Homo sapiens: one gene and its partners. The protein of the gene in region 2 interacts with the protein of the main gene of each other region in a biochemical or structural test. Each region holds a gene or a part of one and is shown on either strand. Other genes may lie near its edges. The genes, in order: THBS1, COL3A1, PDGFB and MAG.

Region 1 (7,936 bases), on a different chromosome or scaffold from region 2:
CAGATGGCTTGCAAGTCCTTTGTCTTGTGGCCAATGTAGTTAGTGCGGATGGCAGGGCTGGAACCATTCACCACGTTGTTGTCAAGGGTGAGGAGGACACTGGTAGCTGGCAAGAAACAAAATGAAAACTTCAAATAGATACTCTTACCAACCAGCCTCTTGAGTTCTTAGTGGTAGAAGACGTTTCATTTGGTGTGAAGGATGCAGGTAGAGGGGTTGCGTGTATGCGCACGTGTGTATACGTGTGTGTGTATAATACCCCTTGGAGTCACTTCTGTATGCCTCTTGATGATCTCACTGGGGGTAATTTATGTATAACCACTATTGCTAAATTCCTCAGTTTGTTTTTGGTGGAATTCCCCCTGATTCCCTATGTGCCCTAAAAATAGAGGGGTACTCACAGCTGGAGCAGCCTTTGTTCCTGAGGATGTCTTCTGGTGTGGTTCCAAAGACAAACCTCACATTCTGCAGCACCCCCTGTGGGCAGAGGACACACATTACTTGTAGAATGCAGAGCGGGGTGGGGATGGGGTTGGGGGAGACTGTCTGTATGCTAGGAAAAGCATACAATAGATGTTCTAAAAGCTTCAAAGAGCTGTCTTAAGATCACTATGTCAAAATAACACAGCAACATTAATCGCCAAACAACTTCAAAATCTTAATTGTGACTTCTGCCAAGTCTTGAGTATTTTACAAAGAATTCAGTTATCAGCCTACTTGGGTACACAGGAAATGGAATCTGATCCTAAGCCTAGAGGATATAATGACACTTTCCAGTGTCAAAGAGTTAAATGTGGGAGTTCAAAGCCACCGTTGCAAAGATCTAGAAGTTAAGGCACAGATGAAGCTGTAACAGCAACAACTAACTGCTATTTTAACCTTTTATGTGAGACCAGCTGCATCCCCATGAGGAATCCAATAGCAAAGTGGTACTGATTCTGCCCATAGAAAGTATCCATTTCAAACAAGATTAAAATTGGGGGAATGCATTTGAAATAAGCTCTTTTCTTAAGAGCCTAAGGAGTATCTAAGGCTTGAACAGGCTGACTGCTAAAGGAAAACCATTTCTTGTTTCCTTGAGTAGTTTTCAAAGTGTGCTTCCCAGACCACCGGCATCAGCATCACCTGGTACTTGTTAGAGTTGCAGTTTTACAGAATCCCAGACTCTGGGGCTGGGGTGCAGCAGGGTGAGCTTTCACAAGCCCTCCAGGTGATGCTCATGCTGCCTAAAATCTGAGAACTGCTGCGTTAGTTTACAGACAGGATTTCCTGTAGCCCTCCTGGCAGGTCACCTGTCTAGCAGATGATCCCACGGAGCAGGGCTCAGAGAAGAAGCCTCACCTGGAAATTGTCATTGACGCCCCCCTTTGCGATGCGGAGTCTGGCGATGCTGGCCAGGTCTCTGGTGAAGACGCTTTGGATGGGGACGTCCAACTCAGCATTCTCCATCTTTTCACAGTCGATGTACAGCTGGGCCCTGTCTTCCTGCACAAACAGGGTGATGCTCTTCCACTGGCCGGTTGCCAGGAGAGCTTCTTCCACAGACACCACGTGCTGCTTTCCTTGGACGGTCAGGCTGAGGTCCAGGGTGCCCGCCTTGCCATTGGACACCACGCTGAAGACCTGGCCAGAGTGGTCTTTCCGCTCCAGGGCCAGCAGCGTGCCCCGGGTCTTCTTCATCTGCCTCAGGGATGCCAGAAGGAGGAAACCCTTTTCTGCCCGCACAGCATCCACCAGGTCTTGGAACTTGTCATCAGGCACAGGGGGGATCAGGTTGGCATCCTCGATGCGGAAAGCTGGGCTGGAAGGGTCGGGGCCCTTCACCAGTCGGCGCCCAGACCCCTTGCGGGCGGCCCCGGTGAGTTCAAAGATGTCAAACACGCTGTTGTCTCCGCCAGACTCTGTTAGACAGGAGAGAACACAAAGTGAGCTTTCTAGGCTGGGACCAGCAGTAGGGGGCTGAGTCCTTAGGGGTGGAGACAAAGGGTTGGGGTGAAAACTCCTGGCAACCACTGAAAGAGGTGAATAAATACCAGGATCAGAGTGAAGCTGCGTCCTGATGTCCAGTCAGGCTCAAGAGGGAGAGGACAGCACGTGAGGGGGCACACCTGGGATAGCCAGCACCTCTTCCTTGTCCCTCCTTCCCCTAAAGGTGCCACACAAACTCACCTGGAATGCGGTTGGTGCCACACACATGCATCAGGAACAGGACGCCTAGTCCCCAGGCCAGCCCCATGGTGGAGCTGTTGGTGCCCAGCAGGGATCCTGTAGCAGGAAGCACAAGAGCCGAGGGTCAGAGATCAGCTAGGCAGGGAGGGACGGTGCGCAGAAACGGGGCTGGGCATGGGGACAGGGCCGGGACCATCCCTCTTTGACCCCGCGTTTGCTGAAATGAAGGACAACAGGATTACTTTCCAGAGAGCATGAGAGAGAGAGAGAGAGAGAGAGAGAGAGGTGGAGGAAAGAGATGCTGGTTTTAAAGTGTGGGGGGCGCAAGACCAACAATTTGGGGGCTTTTGGGAAGTCGAAGGTGAGCAAGATCAGGAACTGTAGTTTGGGGTTGCAGGGAGGGCAGGGGAAGTACAGACTCTTCCCTGGAGTGCTGATACAAAGGCTTAAGGAGGACTTCAGAGAGTAAGGAAATCTTGGGGTGTCCTGATGAGTTGGTTTGTGAACCTCAAGGCTGGAGAGGATGGCTCTGGAGCCTTGCCCTGAAGAGTCCTCCAGCGGCTGAGAGGAGCGGGCTGGGGTAGGCGAGCGGGGAGAGTGTAGGTTCCGGGGTCCACCAGAGGGACTGAAGCCTCAGCGCTCCAGGTGGATGTCCCGGGCAGCTTTGGTCCTCGGCGGCCGCCGGGGGCGACTTACCTGTGTGTACCGGAGCGCGGCGGCCGGGAGCGGTGGCGAGGGCGGCGAGGGCTGGAGGGGCGCGGGGAATGCCTGTGCGTCCGGAGTAGAGGTTGCTCCTGGAGAGCGACAGGAGCCCTGAACTCGCAGGCCAGCTCGGGCGCAGCGGCTGGCAAGGCGGAGGAGCCGCGCGCTTTTAAAGGGGCGCTCGCATTCCTGGGGATTCCTCCGGCCAATGGGCGGCGGCCGGGCAGGAAGCGGGAGGTGGGGGCCAGTCTGGGCTCCTCTCTCCGCCCCCCGCTGCCTGGCGCGCAACTTTCCAGCTAGAAAGTGAAGGGGGCGGGGGTCGGGGCTTGGGAGCACTAGAACTTCTCAGAAAAGTCGGTGCCCGCCCACGCAGCCTTGGCGCGCACGGGCTCGGCGCTCGTACTCTTGCGCCACGCGGGCTCGGGGTGATCAGCAAGCATCCCGAAAAGGGACGGGGCTGGGGAGACCACCTAGGAGGGCCCGCGGGGTGGCGCAGGGGCTTTCGGGCGAGCTGATCTCCCGGAATGCCTGGTTGATGGCGAGAGGTGGATACTAGAGACTGGGCCCGTTTTGTAAAAAGAAAAATGGGCCGACGGGGCGCAGGGGACACCAAGAGAGCCATTCGTTAAAGTACCTGCCCCTCGGGCCCTCGCTGACTCTCCTCCACCGTCCCCGTGGGGTGAGGACACGCGTCCCCCGAGCGCCTGTCCTGAGCTGGCCCCACGCCCGCCCCGGAGGGAGGTGAGCGCGGCGTCGGCGGGGCCGGCAGGTTGGTGCGCCGCGTTCGCCTTCGCTGCCTTCGGGCCCTTTCCTGCCGCGGCTGCCAGGGGGCCCACAGAGACGCCTCTCCCGCTGCCGCGGCGCTCCCTCGGCCGGCCGCTTGGGGGCGGTGTGCGTATTCTCATCAAGGGGCCCGGGGAGGACAGCTGCTTTCTACTCGAATTTTAAGGAAACTTACTCGTATCCAGTTTCCACAAGCCAAATTGAAATTGTGTCTTGAAAAACAGTTTTTGTGCCCACTCGTGCTTCTTAACGTGACTCCTGTTTGGAGAATTTGCAGAACCATCTGGCTCCAGAGTCTTCAGCTATTTACAGAGCAGACCCATAGAGTAATAAATTACTCTCTGCCTATTATTGTATTTCCCTTTTTCCTCCCTAAACGTTCTTTTCATTTTTCGGCTCCTGAACCCGAGGTGTGGGTTACATTTCTGTGGGTGCACACATTGCCATGAGTGCCGCTGCCTAGTGCTTCTGTCATTGAAGTCTGGTCTCCAAGCCACTGTCCCAAGCCAGCATGACTCTAGCTTCCTGGAATTCCATTCATCTCTTCGGGATGGGACGTCAGCCGCCTCGCTCCCTCTGCTGTGATCCAGCGCTATCGGGCTCGCTCCGAGGCCAGGGCATAGGTAGAAGCTTGACCAAATAAGGATCTCAGCACGGGCAGGGGGAAACCCCTGGGGTTCACCTCCCATCTTAGCACTTAAACCTGGCAGGACTCCCGACTGCTGCAAACAGCCAAGTGTTTACATTCATCAAACAGCAGTTTCGCTTTTCTTGCGTGGGAGTGTTGTATGACAAGATGGTGTGTGTGTGTGTGTGTGTGTGTGTGTATTACGGAAAGAGTGTTTTCTAGTTACTCAATATGTATATAAAATGCCTCTAAAAGATGACCGGTATGTTCCTAAGGCACATGTTTGTTGGATTTCAGATGTTGGGAGGCAGAAAGAAAAGTTTCTACTGGTTGATGAATAAAATCAGATTCTTGTCCCGCAAATCATAGGTAATGATTCATCCAAGCAGATCTGAAGATTCTGGAATCGGCACCCATCCATCTCCCTCCCCTTCCTTCTCCTTCTACAGCATTCATCTTGCTCTTCGAAAAGTAATTGGGTTTTTTTTTTCTTCTTTCCACTTGCTCCATGATACTGGACAGTCAGAAATAGTTCTTGGAGGGATGGGCCGCTCATGGCTCTGGGCTCCTCTGGCCCACTGGATCATTGTGTACAAATCAGATGGGGGCTTGAGGGCTGCAAGAGGCCCACAAAAGCAGAATGCATCTTGTATGAAAAGATTATCTCCCCTAGGCTTAGCTGTGCAGACAGAGTAGAAACCAGCACTCACTGCCCCTTCAGGATTCATGCTGCCATGGCTGAGGGATTGTAGGAATGCCTCTGCAGATTTCTTGGAACTTGGCTTCTTTCAACAAAACAAGGACAACAGTTTCCAAACTTCATCATGCTTTACCAATAAGAAGGTGACCTATACGGTGGCAGGAAAGAGCTTTCTTATTAGAGAAAGCTGACAGGTATAGGAGCTGCTTATCTCAAACACAAAGCCCTTCCTCTTATCATGATACTTCAGTTGTTCTGGGTGGAAAGGAAAGGTCATAGAAGAGGGAGTGTCTGCGCCCCTTAACAGGAATTCACCCACATTCTTGCCAGCCAACATGTGCTGCAAATATTCCCCAAACCTCATATACCTCTGTGCAGCTTTGAGAGAAGCAGGGATGGGAAAAGGGAAAAGAAAACCTATCCCCTTTAATGTGAGGGCAATAGTCCATTTTGAGTGTGTCTCTACAACCTGGAAGCACTGTGATTTTAAGGCAATCAATTAACATGGGCCGAAGTGATGGACCTTTCAGGGAGCTGGTCCAGTTCTCTTTTTTGCCAAGTTGTCATCCTTGAGGATTAGTTACTGAAAATTGTAAGGCATATGGCATTTCACCGTAGGATTTCCTTTTTCTAAGTTTCTCTAATTGGAGGTGGGATTGACCTAAATACATTGGCAGTAAGTGTGAGGAAAGGGCTGTCAGTTACAGCTAGTTTTAAAATTGCGTGTAATTAAGGAGAGCAACATAATTGAGAAAAAATATTTTGTTTATTTAGCATAGAACAGCAAGGTGGGCTGTGATTTTGTGTAGGAATTTTTTAAGTGTTGCAAATTTTCAGTAGTGGAACATTTCTTACAAGTGTGAAGCAATGAAAAATCATTGTATTCTAGAATAGTCTAAAATCATAGCATCTTCAAATTGAAGACATCATAAATTCATTTCTCTCTGAATATGTTCCCTAGATCATAATTCTAAGTTGCTTTACTTTAACTGCATCAGAGGTCAGAGCCAGGAGGAAGTTACCAACAGATTTTTCTTGTCCTTCAATCAAACACCAATTCAAGCTCTCCCTTCTCCATGAGGTGTTTTCCATCTGTTTTATGCTGTGTGTTTTAAAGCACACATTATCTCTATCATAAAACTTATCACCTAACACTCTTTATTATTTAGTTTTTAAAAATTAGCTTTTATTTTTTCACATGTAAAGACCAGAATTTTTTTTTGGTGGGGGGTGGGATGGAGTCTTGCTCTGTCTCCCAGGCTGGAGTGCAGTGGTACAATCTCAGCTCACTGCAACTTTTGCCTCCCAGATTCAAGCGATTTTCCTGCCTCAGCCTCCTGAGTAGCTGGGATTCCAGGCGTGTGCCACTACATCCAACTAATTTTTGTATTTTTTAGTAGAGTTGGGGTTTCGCCATGTTGGCCAGGCTGGTCTCAAACTCATCACCTCAGGTGATCCACCCTCCTTGGCTTCCCAAATTGCTGAGATTACAGGCGTGAGCCACTGTGCCCAGGCAAGGACCAGACTTGAAGTGCCCAAAGCCCTGGGCTTGGGAAGAGAGAGTTCTTATGTTTAAATTTCCAAATCTCTTTGTGTACAAGTCAATTATGGCACAGAAGGACGGGACTACTCACCATTTTCCTACCAGCTCTACCATTTTACTCAGTTATCCCTTAGCTCTTGGTGGGTAAATGTGGTGAGTGACTCACAAACATTGTACTCCTCTTCAAAGAACTGAAGCAATACTTTTATGGAATTGATCTCAGTGGGCAGGGGTAGGCATATTGGTTAAGGGTAAACACCTCCTCCCCTTTTTCCCACTTCCCTGCCAGTGACTGATTTAGGAATTGGCATGTGATTCAAATCTGACGAGGTTTGCTGAAGGCTTCCGGGAAAAGTCCTTTGTTGCTTTTAAGGAAGAGCCATGTGAAATCAGGCTTTCTCCATCTCTTTTGGATACCAACAAGAATGCCGATAAGTGCTGTTTGGTGCTATTGGCCACTGGGGAGCCAAGTTTAGTGTGAAACCAGTGTTGGAGGAGGAAGAACAAAAGCATAGAAAGAACTCGTATGTCAGGTCACATTTTTGAGCTGCTAAATCTCTCAACTCTTAAGGGAATCCTACTTCTAGATTTCTTTGGTTATGTGCTTATTATTTAAGCCAAGTTGTTGTTTTCTATTTCTTAGAACCGTAGACATCATAACGGCCCCTTTCCCTGTGTTTGGATGGCCTTTTCACTCATGCTTTGATTAAACCTCTTCTTATTCCTTTAGAATAAGAGAAGTAAGGATAGGTCATAGGATAAACACATTGTAAAGGCTCTTCACCTATATTACTAAGATGCTTTCCAGAAAATTTGCACCATTTACTGTCCTGCCCATGGCATGAGGCAGCCCTTCCCCCTATCTCTTTGCCTGCAGCCACCCTAGTTCCACACACTCTTAACTGCAGGCTGGTAAGGGTGAGCGTTATTTCCGATTTTATTGTGTCTTTGTATCCCTCTTTTGGGTAACTTTGAGATGTAGTCCAGCAGGTTCATAAAGAAAAGAATAACCAGGATGGATGGATTCCAGTGAAGGGGCAGGGGCATTGACCTGCTAGGAAACCAAGGGTATGGAGGAAAGAAGATGGGAAAAGGAGATGGTGAGGTCTCACACTGGGCCGAAAGATGGAAATGGGGAAGATTAGCAAGGTAGGAAGGTGAGGACATGGAGAACAGGCTCTTAACATGTAATAATGATAAATCCCCAAAAGCCGTCTTTGGCAAAAGTCTTTTTCATACTCTGGACGATAGGTGCAGGCTACTGCAGTGTTGCTGATGGGGAGGACTGTATTTGGGAGCAGCCTCTCTGGCTCCACCAATGTTTATCCTTTATCATCTTAGTAAAAAATGCCACCTTATGGGGCATCCTAAATATGGTCTGGTTTGGGTTTCAGCGTGGAAGCTTTTTCAA
Region 2 (7,033 bases):
CAAAACTCAGAAACAAAAAGAATACACACTGTTTGTTTGTCAACTATTAACTTCTTAATTTTCTTATGCCATGATATTTGAGATTTAACATTTAGTTTTGAAATATTATCAAAACAAAGACAAATTATTTAAAAGATAACTATTATATAGAGTTTGAATTTTACCATAAAATAGAGAGTTCATAGTTTCAAGATTTGAAAAATTATACAGTATGCCAACATGACAAATGTGTATTTTGCTTATATTTACATATTTGCTTATATTTACATATTTGCTTATATTTACATAAAATGCACTCTGATATGGGCCTAATCATATAATGCCAATCTCCCAGGGTCCAAAGGGTGATGCCGGTGCACCTGGAGCTCCAGGAGGCAAGGTAGTATTTCAATTTATTCTCTACCTTCTTCAGCAGGTTATAGAGCAATTGATTAGTAGTATATTTTTAGTATATCAAGCCAAAATACTCTTTCTTTAAAAGAGCATCATTGCAAATGTTTGGTAAGTACACTTAGAGAAACTCAAGACACTTTCAATACATTAAATTTGCTTTAATCTGGAAGGTCCAATTCTCTGACATTCATAATCACTACAGAATCAAATACGGGCTTAAAATTTCAAACGGAAAAATATTGCCAATATGTTGATTCTATGTAGGAAAACTGTTTTGGTAAAAAGAACTTTAAAATGTTGCTCTTGTGAATAAAATAATAAGTATTTCAATGACAGCTCACACTTAACCAGACTAAGTATCCAAGTTTTATTTTAGACACTCTTTTAAGCTTCTAGTTCCCACCCAGCTGTTCAACTATTTTTAAGTATACAAATTTCTAGATTGTTCACAATATAATAACCTAGTGGCCTGATTCAAAATGATGCAAGTTAAGGTGCTTTGTTTTTAGCTTTGGGTTGTCTAATATGGTTATTTACATATTTTTGTCACAGGGTGATGCTGGTGCCCCTGGTGAACGTGGACCTCCTGGATTGGCAGGGGCCCCAGGACTTAGAGGTGGAGCTGGTCCCCCTGGTCCCGAAGGAGGAAAGGTAACTCCACAGCATTCCATTCACCTAGGTTTAAAAAATGCATTTGATTTCCTTCTGATCATTTATTATTTCTCACTTATTTTCAGGGTGCTGCTGGTCCTCCTGGGCCACCTGGTGCTGCTGGTACTCCTGGTCTGCAAGGAATGCCTGGAGAAAGAGGAGGTCTTGGAAGTCCTGGTCCAAAGGGTGACAAGGTGTTGACTTGTTTTCTCTTAATTGTTCAATAAATCAGTCATTGTAGGTTTTAAAAAAAGCAACACTCCTGGAAAGTAATCGACTGTATTTTCAAAATTAATGTTATCATTTTATAGTAAGTGAAATTTAAGATGGATTCCTAAAGCAACAATGAATTAGAACACCCAATATATATCCCTACAAATCCTGAGAGTTACTCCTCTTCTTGGCTGATTTTCACTGAAGATACTTTGAATCTGATGACATTGGCTTTTATTTGACAGGGTGAACCAGGCGGTCCAGGTGCTGATGGTGTCCCAGGGAAAGATGGCCCAAGGGTGAGTATTCCCAGTGAGGAGAAGCAGGCCTTATCTATATGTCATATGGGACAGTCCTGCACTTCAACTTTAATTTTTTCCAAAAACTACTCAAGAGAAATTAGATATTTTACCACCTAAAGACCCGAATGACTTGATTTATAATGAAATTTGTGGTCTATATCTATGGCTACTTGATAGATCTACAGTGACTAAAGAATGAAAAAGCCTCAAGAGTACGATAAAGGTCACAAACTAGCATTTGTGAGTCACTAAAATCTGAGATAATCACTGAAATTTAGGATAATCAATGCTGCTCATTAAGAAACTAAAAGTCATCAAAATTCAATATAGTAAGTACTCCTCATTAATAGACTTAATATTTAAAAATTGTATAGTATTTAGCAACAAAAAGGAATGAACAATTGATGCTGTACACACAGCAAATTATACAAACCTCAAGGACAACATACTCAGTGAAGAAAATTCAGTCACCAAGGGATACATACTGCATGATTCCATTCCTACAATATTTGCAAAATAACTTCCTTGTAGAGATGTAGAACAGATTAGTGGTTGCTAGCAGTTAAGAATGAGAAAGAGAGAGATGGATGTGGCTATGGAGACATGACACAAGGGAGTCTTATGGTGATTGCACATTTGAGTATCTTGATTGAGGTGGTAGTCAGGCACATCTACACATGGGATAAAATTCTATAGAGCTACATATACACACACATAAATGAGTGTGTGTATCACTGGTGAAATCTGAACATGCTCTATGGATGGTATCAATGTCAATTTCCTAGTTTTGATATTATATTATAGTTGTGTAAGATGTTAACATTAGGGGACGCTGGGAGAAAAGTGCACAGAATTTCCCTGTATATTCCTTTGCAGCATCCTATGAATCTATAATTCAAACTAAAAGTCAAAAACAAAACAAAAAACATCTCCTAAATATGATTATAATTAAGTCTTTTAATAAATTTATATAATAGTTGCCTTAAAGAAATTCATAAATGCTTCGCTTTTGACAGACTAAGTAGATAAGCCGTCATTCAGGTAAAAAGAGTGCTCAATACTTCAGTTTTGTAATATAAGTAAAACTACTATTTGAAAATTTCAAGTTGAAAAATTTAATATGTACAATGAGACTTTGAGAAAACATTTAAATTATCAAGCAATTGAATAAAGAAATGTACTTTAATTTAAAAAGACATTACTGTAAGATCTTACATGACATCCTATTTATCTTCTACAATGGAGATAAAGATAAATGAATCAATAAACTATTGCTGAATCCTATTTTCTCCCAGAGTTATCCCCAAAGAGGCTTGTGTTTACTGAGCTCTGCAGTATTTACACATTGAGAGAAAAGCATAGCATTCAAGCCATAAAAATTTTTAAAAAGTATGTTATCTAGTTTATTAGGTATCTATGTCTATATACTTTCTGTTTGATTAATGCAAAAAACGATATTTGTATCTTCAAAATTAAAAAATATTTTTATTTCCTCTAGGGTCCTACTGGTCCTATTGGTCCTCCTGGCCCAGCTGGCCAGCCTGGAGATAAGGTAACCCTTAATACTACCTGGATATAAAAAGAAAATGTCTCTCTCTTTTGGATGCAAGACAGTGACATGGCTTCTCTTTTTCCAGGGTGAAGGTGGTGCCCCCGGACTTCCAGGTATAGCTGGACCTCGTGGTAGCCCTGTAAGTGTTAAAGACATTCTCAACATACTTTTTAACCCCATACAGACAGTAGCTACTTATGCTTCCCTTTTTGGCAGTTTTGCCCTCAGTTCCCTGAGCCTCAATTTGGAGATATTATCTTCAAAAACCATATAAGGAACCATATAGCATGCAAGGGAATGTTAAATTTCTTAAATCTAACATTCACAGGAGACCATTTTAAATCAGGATTTCTTTCCTAAATAACTTTGGAAAAAATACATGAATTGCACAAGTAGTACATGTTTGTAATTAGGTATTTCTTAAGCCTATAGAATCTTTGCCTGAGACTCCTTCTAGATTTAAAAGTCTTGACCTTCAGGATTTAAGACTCTGGAAAGATATTTAGTAAATGGTTTTTAAAAATAAATCAGTTAATTTTTCAGTTAAGCTTCTACCATATATTGAAATACATAAATATCTATATATATAAATGTGTTAAATACTTTAAAATTCTCAAACTATTTTTCTTGCAAATAATATCACAGTAGGAGGCAGAAGGAATCAATGGTTCTGGTATTTTCCACTCCTAATTTTATTGAGAAGTGGCAAAGTCTTCAGAAGTTTATTGGCTACTCTGCACATTTCCTGCTTAAAGGAAAGAAAAGATAAGATGATAAGATGACATTTCCTGCCTAAAGGAGATGACGCACACTTCACTGTGACTAAGGAGGATATTTTTCTCTTCAGGGTGAGAGAGGTGAAACTGGCCCTCCAGGACCTGCTGGTTTCCCTGGTGCTCCTGTAAGTGTGAATATTTATACATACATGTCCCATAGCCCAGGATCTCTATCTTGCTGAAAAATTACAAAAGTATAGTCAAGTTTGGTTTCTAGTCTCATTTTAGCTGCTCATTCCCTATAGGATTATTGTACCCCTATTTTGTTTTACTTTACCCCTATTGTCGCTCTTTGAAAGATGGAAATAAAAACACCTGTCCTGCTTTTATGACTGGGTAATGAACTAAAGCAGTATCATGGATTTAAAAGCACTCTGAATTTTTGTAAATTCTTCCATTATAAGATGGTACTAATTAAAATTTTCTCTTAAATCCGGTCTTTCTCAAAAAAATTTACTGGTGCTGATTTTCAAATGTTTAATCCTTAGAGACACTTCCTCCCTCCCTAATGGCAAATAATGCACAGTTTATGCTTTCTTGGTCATGTTCTTTGATCATGAAAATATTTTGATTGGCTTCATTTTGTCATGTCTTCAGAAAGCCTTGTTTTTAAATTTTATTTCAACTCCTTCCATCTGAAGAATTCTATATTCTGAAGAGAAATAATAATAAGCCAATTGTATCATAAAGAGTGTCAGCTGAGAGATTGCTGTTGTTGTTGCATGTAGGGACAGAATGGTGAACCTGGTGGTAAAGGAGAAAGAGGGGCTCCGGGTGAGAAAGGTGAAGGAGGCCCTCCTGGAGTTGCAGGACCCCCTGGAGGTTCTGGACCTGCTGTAAGTTCCTTCCTCTTTCTCTGTCTATCTATCTATCATCTATCTATCTATTGATTATCTGTCTATCTCTCCCTCTCTCTCTCCCTCTCCCCCCTCTGTAAGTCCTAAGTGTTCTAATGGAAAAACATGGAGGTTTATCAGTAATTTAATATTTTATACTGAGATAGCATGTCATAGTGTCAAGAATATAATCTTTATATGAATATAGTCCAAGTATGAATCTCAGCACCAGCAATCTAAAAGTTATTTTAACCTCTTCATAGAGTTCCTGGTTTTCAAAGGCTTAATGCTTTTCCCAAATTTTGATTTTGGTGCTATTCTTACATAATTTCCTTCCATTTCATATAGGGTCCTCCTGGTCCCCAAGGTGTCAAAGGTGAACGTGGCAGTCCTGGTGGACCTGTAAGTATTGATCCTCTTAACTATTATTGAAAAGCATTAATTGATATCAACCTGTATAAAAGCTGCATTTGAGACACTAGTTCCATAAAGAGAATGTAAAAATTGTAATCGCTCATTCATACATGAGTTATATGTAAATTCCAAGGGGAAACACAAACCATAAATGACTTTCAGGTACAATGCAGATCATGCCACACATTATACTTTTTGTTTGTTGTACAGTTATTTGTTCTACTTTTGAAATTCAAAAATATATTACCATTTCACAGGGTGCTGCTGGCTTCCCTGGTGCTCGTGGTCTTCCTGGTCCTCCTGGTAGTAATGTAAGTAATTGTTAAAGTCTTTTCTCATCATACACTTCAGAAAGAGCATTCATGTATGTATAGGATGAGAAACTTACACATTGCTACTTATTTCTCTAGTAAGTCTCAAATAAAATTATTTGAAGTAAGTAAAAAAAGAAAGAAAAAATGCACTTTTTATTATAAATATTCAAATTTCAAACAATTATTTGTAGGGTAACCCAGGACCCCCAGGTCCCAGCGGTTCTCCAGGCAAGGATGGGCCCCCAGGTCCTGCGGGTAACACTGGTGCTCCTGGCAGCCCTGGAGTGTCTGGACCAAAAGGTGATGCTGGCCAACCAGGAGAGAAGGGATCGCCTGGTGCCCAGGGCCCACCAGTAAGTAACTTCATTTTTTTAAATTGATTCTACTATTTTGATTTTTATCACAAATCGATTAGAGAAAAACACTGTCACATAAAGATGAGCTAAGTCTTCATTATCTGTATTAGGGAGCTCCAGGCCCACTTGGGATTGCTGGGATCACTGGAGCACGGGGTCTTGCAGGACCACCAGGCATGCCAGGTCCTAGGGGAAGCCCTGGCCCTCAGGGTGTCAAGGTGAGTATAGTCATTTTCCACTACACTCTTCCTTCCTTTGGTAGCCTTCAGAGATCACTTAACCATATCAAGGATGAAAAGTTTTTCTGTCACTGGAGTAAATTAGCCAGGAGATAATTTTTTTTTATTTTTAGATTTTTAAAAGCATAAATTTTAATAAATGGCTCCAGAACACAAAACAGGGCATATCATAGACAAACCTTGAATATAAACACAAATAAATTAATATGATGAAAACAATATTGCCATCTCAAACACCTCTTTTAGGAAACTTGTGAATATTCTTCAATTTGTTGACTGTCAGTTTTGAAGGGGGAAATAGTGTTAGCTTATAGATCTTGGAAAGTCTTTCATTAATGCTAGTTATCCATCCATTCAAGTCATCTTGCACTCCTGACTCTCTTTCACTAGTATTATATTCCTATAACATTCTAGTGCTTAGCATCTAAAACATTCGTTTGGTAAACAGGATAATAAAATTGCATTTTTATTAGGGCTCGTATTATGGCACTTTAAGTACTTCTTTCAACAAAATGTTATGTAATATTGTCATAAAATTAATATTTCATATTTAAGTGTGTTCAATTGATATGATATTTCTGGTAAGTGTATATTCTTCAGATAGAGACAAATAACCTAATTTTAAGGATCACCATACACCTCTAGTTTCATGATGGCTCATTATTGTTTTTCCCTATACTAATCATGTTTATGTATTCATCTCAGATTACAATGTACAGTATTCTGAATTAGATAATCAATGTAACTATTCAGCCCTTTGCCATCCAGAGTCACTGAGCAAGTTAGAAAATGCAAGAAGCTTGCTCCCCCATATTTTTTCCCATAGCAGGCATAGTTTTAATTTTAAAATTCAATGAAGATTAAATAAAATAAGTTTTTTACCTGAAAATAAAGATATCTGATAACACCATTTTAATTGATTTCTTAAGTTGAAACAAAATGTTTTTCATTCCTTTGTATACAGGGTGAAAGTGGGAAACCAGGAGC
Region 3 (5,157 bases), on a different chromosome or scaffold from region 2:
GCCCAAATGTTATTCAGTCTAACCTCAGCCACATTGTTCCCCAGTTTTCGCTTACACACTTCCAGTGACAGGGAGCTCACTACTTCAGGTGGCAAAATGGTTTTAGTTTTAGATTGCCCTTATGAGCCAGATCTTTAGCTTCTGGGTCCCTCTCAGCCCCAGTCCACGCTGCAGGTGGGACCTAGAATACATTTAGCCTCTTTTTTATGGGCTGGTACCCAAGTCTTCATGAGCAAGAGAAAGCGCAGAACACAGGAGCTTGGAGCCCACGCACCTTTCCTCATCCTCTCTGGCCAGAGTGGGTCTGTGACTTGCCCAAGGCCACACAGCTGGCTAAGGGCTAAGCCAAGACCAGACCGCAGACCCGGCTTTCCACTGTTTCCTTCTAAATCCCACATCCCCTCTGGGACTTCCTTCAGTGTTCCCCACAGTGGGCACTCCCTCCCCACATCCAGCCCACCCCACGATGCTGAGGATCCACTTCCTCTATGGAGACCCTCAGGCTGCAGAAACCCATCTCTCGTCACTGCCAGAGACACGCACAAGTCCACGTGTCAGGAGCTGTGCCAGGACCAAGACCAACAGAGTAGCCTGTGTGTCTCTTCTTCCCGCCAGACAGAGGCCTCCCCCAAGTTGCAGGCCTGCGTGTATGTGCACGCATGTGTGAGCATGTATGTGTGTGTGTGTGTATGTGCACGCCAGTGTGTGAGATCACGCCTGAGGCTCCCAGAGTGAGAGGAACACGCCGCAAGCTGTCGGCACATCCTGCCAAGGCAGAAAGGTTAATTGTCACGCACGATGCCAACAGACAGACCTCCGGCGGATTCATTTGGTTTTGTTTTGTGGTTATTTTTTTTTACAACTTTAAATACGGAATATAAATAAATTTTACATTTAAAAAATAAAAGGAAAGCCCCCAAAAATATAATCACCGACTTTACAAACTGAAGGAAGCAGGTTTTGGAAGGCGGGAAGGGGGAAAGTGCAGTAGGTGGGAAGGGAGGTGGGAGCTCAGATCCCACCCCAGGGGGTCTTGGGGATCTTTTCCCTTCTCTCCCCCATTCCCAGCCCACGAGCTGGTTTCCTAGGAGGAGCCACCAGAGGTGGAGCTCAGAAGGATCAAAGATGGGGAAGTGTGCAAGCAGGGAGGGGTGCGGGCAAGAGGGCTGCACCCTCCCTTGGAGACCTTCTCCCAGGTGTCCCACACCCACCTGGAAGGGCAGTTGCTGGAGCAGAGGACTTTGGGAAATGGAGGTCATGTGGACAGCAGTGTTGCCTCCCTGCCCCTACCACAGTCTCCCTCCTATTTGGCCACTCCAAGCCACAGGCTGCATCAGGGGCACAGCCAGTCCACAAGGAGTCTTTGTGTGAATTAGGAAAAGGATCCTTTTCCTCTTTACCTACATCTGCCAGAAATTGTCATAATAAATATACAAATCAGCTTTATCTATGATGTGAACAGTGCTCCCTGCATACAATGTCCTTGTGCAGTACACACCCTGCACAACCTTACATGGCAGTCGTGGCTGGGTTGGAATATGATGAGCAGGTCCCTTGCTGCCCTGGCCTCTAGTCTTCTGCCCTAGAGAGGAGTGACTGGGATCATCTGGGGCCTTAATAAGGGGTTCAAGAGCCCCTTGGTGGAGCAGACTGAAGGGCCAGGACAAGAGGAAAATGCAGGGTGGAGGTAGAGAGATGAAAGGAACCAGAGGAAGAGGTGAATCAGAGTGGAGTGTGGGGAGGAAGGGGTGGCAGGAGGCAGGGGATACCCAGGTCACCATCTACAGCCACCTCAACAGCAAACTCCATCTCTAACCCACCTGAGAGGGCACCCAGCCACTTGGTGTGCTGGCCACACCCACCAAGAGGAGTCCACGTCTTCAAAACGAAAACGAAAAGAAGCCACTGTGCACAGAGGCACCAGGGAGACGAGGTGACTGGTGTTTGGGCACCGTGGGAGGGGTTTTCTCCAGTCTGTGTGCCCGTCTGTGGTCTTAGCCATGGAGTCCGAGGCAGCCTGGCCTGCCTGGAGGTGCCTCCCCTCAGAGCTGGCCAGGGGTTCAGGGATCAGGCAGGCTATGCTGAGAGGTCCTCAGGGCTCCTCAGGACAGTCCACAGCGCTCAGGTGTGGCCCAGGCCAGGTGCAGGGGAAGGAGCCCGTTTCCCCCAAAGAGCGACCCCATCAGTCTCTCTCACACTCTTATCCCAAGTTCTTGGAGTTAAGGGAAGAAGATGGCGATGGAGTTCAGTCCTTCTTTTTCTTCTTGAGCTGCTGGGCAAGACGCCGGAGGCCGCTGGGAGGAGACCCGCTGATGGAAGGGTGGACGGACACGTGGAGGGGTGGGGGAAGCACCATTGGCCGTCCGAATCAGGCATCGAGACAGACGGACGAGGGAAACAATATTATCACTCCAAGGACCCCATGGGGGCAATACAGCAAATACCATATTAAATAACCCTGCAGGCCAAGCAGAGAGACACAGGGGTCAGAGACAGCCTAGAGGGTCCATCCCATGTTCATATGTCCCCGATGCCAGGGGCAGGGAGCTGGGGTCAACTAGCCACCCCTGATTTCCAGCAATGCTCAGGGCTGGGGGCATTGAGGGGCTGGGAAGATTGAGATTTAGACCTCCCATCCTCTTAGGGCATGCTGGGACACAGCTGGGCTGGGGTCTCCAAAGCCCACCACCCACCCTGCCCCAGCTGATAACTGGACAGGGAGGACCAAGGCTCAGAGGCTGGATTTTCTATGGAAAAATCCTTTCCCCTGACCCCATCCACAGACCACAGAGAAGAAAACACAGGATTCTGGGCCTCAGTTGCCCCGCCTGGCCCTCACCTGCCCACACACTCTCCTGCCGATGCCCCTAGGCTCCAAGGGTCTCCTTCAGTGCCGTCTTGTCATGCGTGTGCTTGAATTTCCGGTGCTTGCCCTTGGGGGGCCGGCGGACTCGCACCGTCCGAATGGTCACCCGAGTTTGGGGCGTTTTGGCTGCACAAGAAAAAGAAAGACCTCGTCAGCATGTGGACCATTGGGGAGGTCTCTCCCCACTGACCAAGGCCTGCCATGGACCTTCTGGGCTCAGGAAAGGGACAGGAGGGGAATCTGGACCAGGGTCCTGGGTTTGGATCCCAACTCCACTGCTCACCAGCTGTATGTGCCTTGGGGACAATGACTGAAACTCTCTGAGCCTTGGCGCCTCCATCTGTGGAATGGGGGTAATAAGACTGCCCACCTCATAGAACTGGTGGGAGGAATAAATGACAGTATGCTGGCAAAGCTCTTTGCACAGTACTGGACACAGAGCCGGGTAGATTAAATATGGCTTCAAGTTCTTTGTCATTGCCCACTGACCAATAGAGTTTATTTCCCTGCCCCTTGAATCTGGCCTGGAGTTGGATCTGGTTAACCAACAAGAGGCAGACGTGGTGCCGTGCCAGTTCCAGGCAGAGGTCTTAAGAAGGGCTGGCAGTTCTCACCTTCATGCTTTGGGGGACCCTGGGCTGCCACATAACAGGTCTGGCTACCTTGCTGGAGAGGCCACATGGAGAGGCCTGGTGGGGACTGGCTCTCCCCGTAGAGCCAGAGGCCCTGGACTACAGGGAGAGGAAAAGAGGCCCAGCTGTCCCCGTTGAGTCTCCAGATGACCACAGCCCAGGCCACCAGCTGACTGCAACCAATAGAGGGGCCAATAGAACTGCCCAGCTGAGCCCAGTCAACCCCCAGACCTGGGAAAGATAATAAAAAGCTCCAAGTATGAAGTGGTCAGCACATGGCAGCTGCTACGACTCACTTTTTTTTCTTATTTTCCTTAGCTTGACCTACTATTGAGGTTTCCTCCCAACCTCTCAGCCCCGTCCGATCACGTGGTGTGGAGGCCACTGGGCTCTGGGCCAGAATCATACTCCCACCATGAAGCTGGGCCTTCGGGTCAGTTGTGCCTGTCACCTACCTGCCCCTTGCCACTCTGAGAAATGGTAGAGTGGGATGGGCCACAACTCAGGCTGAGGATCTGACCCACCTGGGCTCAAATCTGGGCTCTCCCACGTATCGTGGACATTGGAGCAAGTCACTTAACTGCCCTGTGCCTCGATTTCCGCATCTTTATTTATTTGTTTTTAAGATGGAGGCTCACTCTGTTGCCCAGGTTGGAGTGCAGTGGCGCGATCTCAGCTCACTGCAACCTCCACCTCGCAGGTTCAAGTGATTCTCCTGCCTCAGCCTCCCGAGTAGCTGGGATTACAGGCATGCACCATGACACCTGGTTAATTTTTGTATTTTTAGTAGAGATGGGGTTTCACCATGTTGGCCAGGCTGGTCTTGAACTCCTGACCTCAAGTGATCCACCTGCCTTGGCCTCCCAAAGTGCTGGGATTACAGGCATACGCCATGACACCTGGTTAATTTTTGTATTTTTAGTAGAGATGGGGTTTCACCATGTTGGCCAGGCTGGTCTTGAACTCCTGACCTCAAGTGATCCACCTGCCTTGGCCTCCCAAAGTGCTGGGATTACAGGCGTGAGCCACCACGCCCAGCCGATTTCCACATCTTTAAAGCAGAGAAGACAGCAGCCCTGGCCTCCTAGCGTTAGGAGACAATACATGGAAATGGCCAGAAACCCCCCAGCTAGTGTTTACCATGTACCTGGTGCTGTTCTATGCTCATTTCCCTTCACGGCAGGTGCTGTTACCGGCAGATGCTGTTACCCACACTTTACAGATGAGGAAACTGAAGCAGAGAGACTGGGATTTGAACTCAGGGATCTGCCTCTAGAGTGCACACCTCCAACCACTCAGCACAAACGACAGTGCCTGTGAGCCTCAGTCAAGGGGAGCTCTTATACACTTCTCTCCGTCCTGGATTCCCAGGTGGCCACCCTGGCAGGGACAGCTGTGTCTGCTGAGCTCAAGGCCAGCCATTTCCTGGGAGCCTTTTGAGCTCTCCCAGCCTACCGGGATCTGACACCTGACCTCCCACCTTACAGACACCAGCTCCCACGAGGCAGCTCTCCCATCTCTGCAATTGCGCAGATTTTCTAGCAGTTCAGGGACTTGAATGGGCTTCAGATCCCCTCAGACAGAAGACACCAGGAGGGCCACTGAAGGGCCCAGGGAGTTTCTTCCCCAGAGCCTGGGCCATCAGCAGGACACTGGGCT
Region 4 (5,180 bases), on a different chromosome or scaffold from region 2:
ATGTTTCTGGAACTGAATGTAGTGATGTATAAAGGCTGACGCTGCAAATTGCAGCATGAATGTGAGAGATGGTGGTGAAACCAACACGGGCTGGTGAGACCTAGATCTGTGGCTCGCACTCCAAGCTGCAGGGACCAGGAGGTAATCTCAGTGCAGGAAGCCGGCCAGGTGTGGGACAATAGGGAGTGGTGGGGACTGCGGCCAGTGCACAGGACCCTCCCTTTCAGCAAGTCATGTCCACGTACAAGTGCAAGCCTGGTGCTGTCAGCTGATCTGACTGCGGCAAAAACCAGCATGAGGATTTTTATGTGAAATCATCCATAAGTCAAACCAGACCCAGCTCGCAGCTACCAGCTCAGAGTGGGAGCAACTTAGTGGCCACTGGCCCTGGGTTCAAGGCTAAAATCCCTGGGCCCTTGCCTGCATACCAGGCTCAGCCGAGGGCAAGGAGAAATTCTGTCATCGTTCTGTAGACGGTGGGATGGCAGGCTGCCCAAAGGCGGGTCAGAAAGCATCAGGATCTAGACTGGCATTTGGCTTTGGGGCATTTATTTCATGTCCCTTTTGTACAGGCCCCAGGGCCAGGTGTGGGGGCAGGAGACCAGGCAGGAAGTAGCAATAAATAACACGGACAGACAGAGCTCCCCTCCAGACAGATGAGGGTAAAGGAGGTTAGAGAGGAGCCGTAATGAGGGCGTGGGGGTGCTGGCAGGGAGGGGCAGCTGGGAAGGAGGGGGAGGTCAGGCCCCCAGGACCTCACTGTCACCTGCCTCACTCCCCTCCTGCCCCAGCCCCCGATACTTTTGGGAGGAAGGGAGCCCACAGCCAGTGGGGGCCAGCGAGGGTCCTGAGGGGGGTCAGCCACGCAGGCTGCCCCCAGCTCCTTCACTTGACCCGGATTTCAGCATACTCAGCTAGCTCCTCCGTCAGCGTGTAGCTGTCCTTGGTGGGCCGTTTCCCCAGGTCCGAGTGAGAATAGCTCAGGTCCAGCTCTGGGGGCTCACCCCGAAGGCCCAGCAGCCTCCTCTCAGATCCCAGGCGCCTCTCGCTCTAAGAGGGGAAACCGCCCATTAGCAGGGTCCTGCTCCCTGCCTTTTCCCAATGCAGAGGACAGAGCGTTTGCACCCTCAGAGCTCCTGAGTTCAGTCCCAAATAAATCCCTGCGAGAACCTCCTTTCTCAAGGACCGCAGGCCCAGCGAGCCCTGCGGTCACCAGGTCCCACTCTGGAGCTTCTGCCAGTGTTAATCATTGCTGAACTTGAAATTTGCCTACAAATTCAGTTTCTCCAGGAAGCTGCTTCTTCTTCTTCTTTTTCTTTGAGACCCAGGCTGGATTGCAATGGCTCGATCTTTGCTCACTGCAGCCTCCACTTCCTGGGTTCCAGCAATTCTCCTGCCTCAGCCTCCCAAGTAGCTGGGATTACAGGCACCTGCCAACACGCCTGGCTAATTTTTTGTATTTTTAGTAGAGACAGGGTTTCACCATGTTGGCCAGGCTGGTCTCAAACTCCTGACCTCAAGTGATCCATCCGCCTCAGATTCCCAAAGTTGTGGGATTACAGGTGTGAGCCACTGCCCCCGTCCAGGAAGCTTTCAACATAGGAGTTTTGAGGGCACACAATGTAACCCCTAATACCTTTTTGGGTGAAAACCACCTAGTCAGGACCCCATCTTTCCAAATTCCTGGAAATACCTGGTTTGGTACGTGCCCCCCCATGGGTCCTGCATGGGTCCGCCCTCAATCTGGGAGGTCCTGCAGGTGACATGTGGGTTCCCCCCACGCTTCCCACCCCTCCCTCCACCCCCTAGCCACAGGAATTTGGACACACAGGACGGTGGCCACAGACAGAAGGGAGCTGCAACAGGACAGACTAGACAAGGCCAGCACTGCCGGGCAGGCCCGGACATCACCAGAGACCACCTTGACGCCTGACAGGGACACACGGACATGCACGCCAACCCCAGGGCCCAAGGAGGGCCCAGAGGAGGGCACACTGAGGCCCCCGGAACCTACCTCCTGGGGCACTCAGTGAGATTCCAGGGTAGAAACCTCTTTGGACTATTGGAGAAGGAAATGCAGTCACAGACACAGGCAGGGAGGGGAGGGGGCCCTTAGGCCCCACGTCCCATCGCCCCCTACACAGCTTCGGCCTGGGCACCTCCTCCCCAGCCTCCAGGTCCAACCCAGCCCTGGAATGTCCTTCCTCTCCTCCTGTGAGAGGCCGCTCCCACTCCCCTGCCCCTTGGCCTCACAGGCCTTTCCCAGGCCTTCAGTGTCCCTGGCATCCAGGTTCCCAGGCCAGCCTGGAGCCTGGTCCTTACCTCGTACTTCTCTGGTGCCCCAGAGATGCGGAAGTCGCTGCTGAACAGGACGGGAGGGTTGTCCCCTGCCGAGAAGCTGGGGCTCTCTGTCACGTTCTTTCTGCAGGGCAGGACTCGTCAGACCTCTCTCTGCCCTCCCTTTCTGCACCCCCACGTGTTTTAGGAGTTTGGCTCAGGGGACCTCAGAGTTCTCCCACCCATCTCTAAGATGTGGCAAGCAGCCCTTTCAGAACCACCAGCCTCTCCTACCCACACAGCCCATCCTTCCCACCTCTGTGGCCCCTGCCCGGCTGGGGACGAGCCACCTGGCCCCTGAGCTCTGCCGTTTTTCAGGACCCCCACCTGGATTCTCCAGGTTCCCCTCATAGGCTCTGGGTCTTTCTGCCCCTCTTGCCACCAGGATGTGGAGCAGAGGGGTTAATTTATTTCTCAGGACAGCTGATGTGTGTGTGCCACAAGAAAGAAACACGGCTGCAGCTGAGTTGGGCCAGGTGGGTATGGTTTGGGGCTGGAGAGGCTTTCTGTCTGTCTGTCTGTCTGTTTGTTTGTTTTTAGAGACAGGGTCTCTCTTTGTCACCTAGGCTGGAGTACAGTGGTGAAATCATAGCTCACTACAGCCTCAACCTCCCAGGCTCAAGCGATCTTCCCTCCTCAGCCTCCCGAGTAGCTGGGACAACAGGCACGTGCCACTAGTAGCTAATTTTTTTGTTTTTTTGTAGATGGGGTCTCCCTATGTTGCCCAGGCTGGCCTCTAATTCCTGAGCTCAAGAATCGTTCCACCTCAGCCTCCCAAGTAGCTGGGACTACAGTGTGTGCCACCATGCCTGGCTAATTAAAAAAAAATTTTTTTTAGAGATGTGGTCTTGCTATGTTGCCCAGGCTGGTGTCAGATTCCTGGCCTCAAGCAATCCTTCCTCCTTGGCCTCCTAAAGTGCGGGATAACAGGCGTGAGTCAACGCGCCCGGCCAAGGCCTATTTTTTTTTTGCCCCAGATGTGTGTAATCTTTGGGGCTTCTGGCGTCAAGTGGACCTGCTGCTGTGGCTGCAGTGGGGTACCTGGGCTTTCCCCACCACACTGGAGTGTGTAGGGGAGAGTTCCTAGAGATAGGGAGGCTGTCAAAATAGAATGTGGGCAAACAGGTCTCAAATGATGTGTGTAAAGGGCTCAGCCCAGGCCCTGGTGTGCCCCTGACCAGCAGGGGCTGGAATTAACAGGAACCCTCTCTCCTCTGTCCAGCTGAACATTCCCAGAACAGAATCTGCCTTCTCTACACTTATGGTGCTGCCTTCCCCCACCCACTCTGGGCCTCCATCTCCCACCAGGTCCCCTTTTTGGAGACTCCCATCCCCAGATCAGCCCCAGCTGGCACTCACTTCCTGCGTGTCTGGGTAATGTAGCAGACGATGGCAATCAGGATGGCAAAGGCGACCACGGCGCCCACAGGCCCGATCTTGGCCCACATCAGTCGATCTGAGGACAGAAAAGACCCAGGCGCCCTTAGGGCTATGGGTGGTGGTGACGACACCTGAGAACTTTGGAGACATGCTGGGATGACAGTCAATGTAGTCACACAGCCGGGGCATCCTTGCACTGACTGATTGGCACGGAGCCTCCTCGTGCCAGGGCAATCCCTTTCATGCTAGAGGGCCCTGGGGAGGGGCTCATGCCTCAAAGGTCCTAGCAAACTCGGGGCAAACTCAGGGCGGCTTCTCCTCTCCAACCGGAAAGGGAGAATTTGACCTTTCTGTCAATCTGCATAGCCCATGCTCTGTGGCTGTTGGTCAGCCTTGGGAGCTTGGATCTAAGACGTGCCCGCTCCCTCCTGTGGCTCCCACCCCAAGTCCACGCCACTCACGGGCTCCCTGGAAGGGCAGCTCCAGGCTCTTGGCGCCATAGAGGTTCCTCGCGGTGCAGATGACGCGGGGCGGGGCCTGGGCCTGCCCCCGCAGCGTGAGGATGCTGGTGAGCACGAGGCCGCTGCGCTCCGAGTACACGAACTCCCGCTCGCTCTCGTTCACGGTCACATTGCGCGATGGCAGCTCAAAGGCCACGGACGGCTCCGGGTTGGACTTCACCACGCACAGGCACTGCACCGTGTCTCGGGCTGCCGCGCAGTGGGACTCCAGGAGGAGCACAGGGGCGACTGCAGGGGCAAAATCAGGTCTGAGGGTGGCCCGGAGCCAACGCGAGGCCCGGCCCCGGAGACTCCTTGGCTCAAGGCAAGGCCAGTGTGGCCAAGGATGGGGGCGGTAGCTTCCTGTAGGGCCCTCCAATTTCCCCTCCTTTTTTCTCTGTCCTGACTGAGAGCGCCTTGACCTCACTACGACCCCGCCGGCTGCCTGTTTTCACTGCAAGCTTCACTAACCCACGCCTGGGGCCTTGAACATTCCCAGGCACTGATAAAGGTGTTTAGGTTGTTGCTCAAAACACTGAAAGAGGCCGGGCATGGTGGCTCACTGCTGTAATCCTAGCACTTTGCGAGGCCGAAGAGTGAGTGGATCACTTGAGGTCAGGAGTACGAGAGGTTACAGAATGAGACGCTGTCTCAAAAAAACCCCAAACAACAACAACAACAAAAATGAAAGAATGAAAGAAACCAGCCCCAGCCCTGGGCCAAATTCCTTAAACCCTCATGTAAACCCATACCCTGACCCTCACGGACGTGTCTGGGTAGACCCTCCCTTTCTCTCGCCGTAGCACTGTGCAAGTTCCCCTCCCAAATGCTTTGGACTGATGATCACCTGGTGGTTTAGTGCCTCTCTCTTTGGAATCCCAAGTGGCCTCATTTCGGGGTGGTTTGGGGTGCTCTCTTGGGGCAATTCTTCTGGTGCCACTTTTGAGGCGACTCTAGCCTCAG

The links.
Region 1: the proteins of COL3A1 (region 2) and THBS1 form a complex in vitro, tested with the Homo sapiens proteins (one study listed by BioGRID).
Region 3: the proteins of COL3A1 (region 2) and PDGFB form a complex in vitro, tested with the Homo sapiens proteins (one study listed by BioGRID).
Region 4: the proteins of COL3A1 (region 2) and MAG form a complex in vitro, tested with the Homo sapiens proteins (one study listed by BioGRID).

What each region holds. Positions count from the first base shown.
Region 1 is NC_000015.10:39,576,158-39,584,093, reverse strand, and holds the start of THBS1 (thrombospondin-1 precursor), read right to left. Parts: upstream 3,016-7,936; 5' UTR 2,866-3,015; intron 2,387-2,865; exon of another isoform or gene 2,266-2,386; 5' UTR 2,237-2,265; coding exon 2,170-2,236; intron 1,902-2,169; coding exon 1,342-1,901; intron 478-1,341; coding exon 402-477; intron 107-401; coding exon 1-106. Other genes in the region: uncharacterized protein LOC124903470, read right to left, coding at 3,342-3,776. UniProt on the Homo sapiens protein: Adhesive glycoprotein that mediates cell-to-cell and cell-to-matrix interactions.
Region 2 is NC_000002.12:188,998,340-189,005,372, forward strand, and holds part of COL3A1 (collagen alpha-1(III) chain preproprotein), read left to right. Parts: intron 1-334; coding exon 335-379; intron 380-945; coding exon 946-1,044; intron 1,045-1,130; coding exon 1,131-1,238; intron 1,239-1,502; coding exon 1,503-1,556; intron 1,557-3,057; coding exon 3,058-3,111; intron 3,112-3,196; coding exon 3,197-3,250; intron 3,251-3,958; coding exon 3,959-4,012; intron 4,013-4,615; coding exon 4,616-4,723; intron 4,724-5,071; coding exon 5,072-5,125; intron 5,126-5,394; coding exon 5,395-5,448; intron 5,449-5,642; coding exon 5,643-5,804; intron 5,805-5,917; coding exon 5,918-6,025; intron 6,026-7,010; coding exon 7,011-7,033. UniProt on the Homo sapiens protein: Collagen type III occurs in most soft connective tissues along with type I collagen. Involved in regulation of cortical development.
Region 3 is NC_000022.11:39,222,856-39,228,012, forward strand, and holds the end of PDGFB (platelet-derived growth factor subunit B isoform 1 preproprotein), read right to left. Parts: intron 2,993-5,157; coding exon 2,868-2,992; 3' UTR 2,840-2,867; intron 2,459-2,839; 3' UTR 504-2,458; downstream 1-503. UniProt on the Homo sapiens protein: Growth factor that plays an essential role in the regulation of embryonic development, cell proliferation, cell migration, survival and chemotaxis. Potent mitogen for cells of mesenchymal origin.
Region 4 is NC_000019.10:35,309,160-35,314,339, reverse strand, and holds the end of MAG (myelin-associated glycoprotein isoform a precursor), read right to left. Parts: intron 4,467-5,180; coding exon 4,179-4,466; intron 3,794-4,178; coding exon 3,697-3,793; intron 2,423-3,696; coding exon 2,323-2,422; intron 2,060-2,322; coding exon of another isoform or gene 2,027-2,059; exon of another isoform or gene 2,015-2,026; intron 1,051-2,014; coding exon 886-1,050; 3' UTR 533-885; downstream 1-532. UniProt on the Homo sapiens protein: Adhesion molecule that mediates interactions between myelinating cells and neurons by binding to neuronal sialic acid-containing gangliosides and to the glycoproteins RTN4R and RTN4RL2.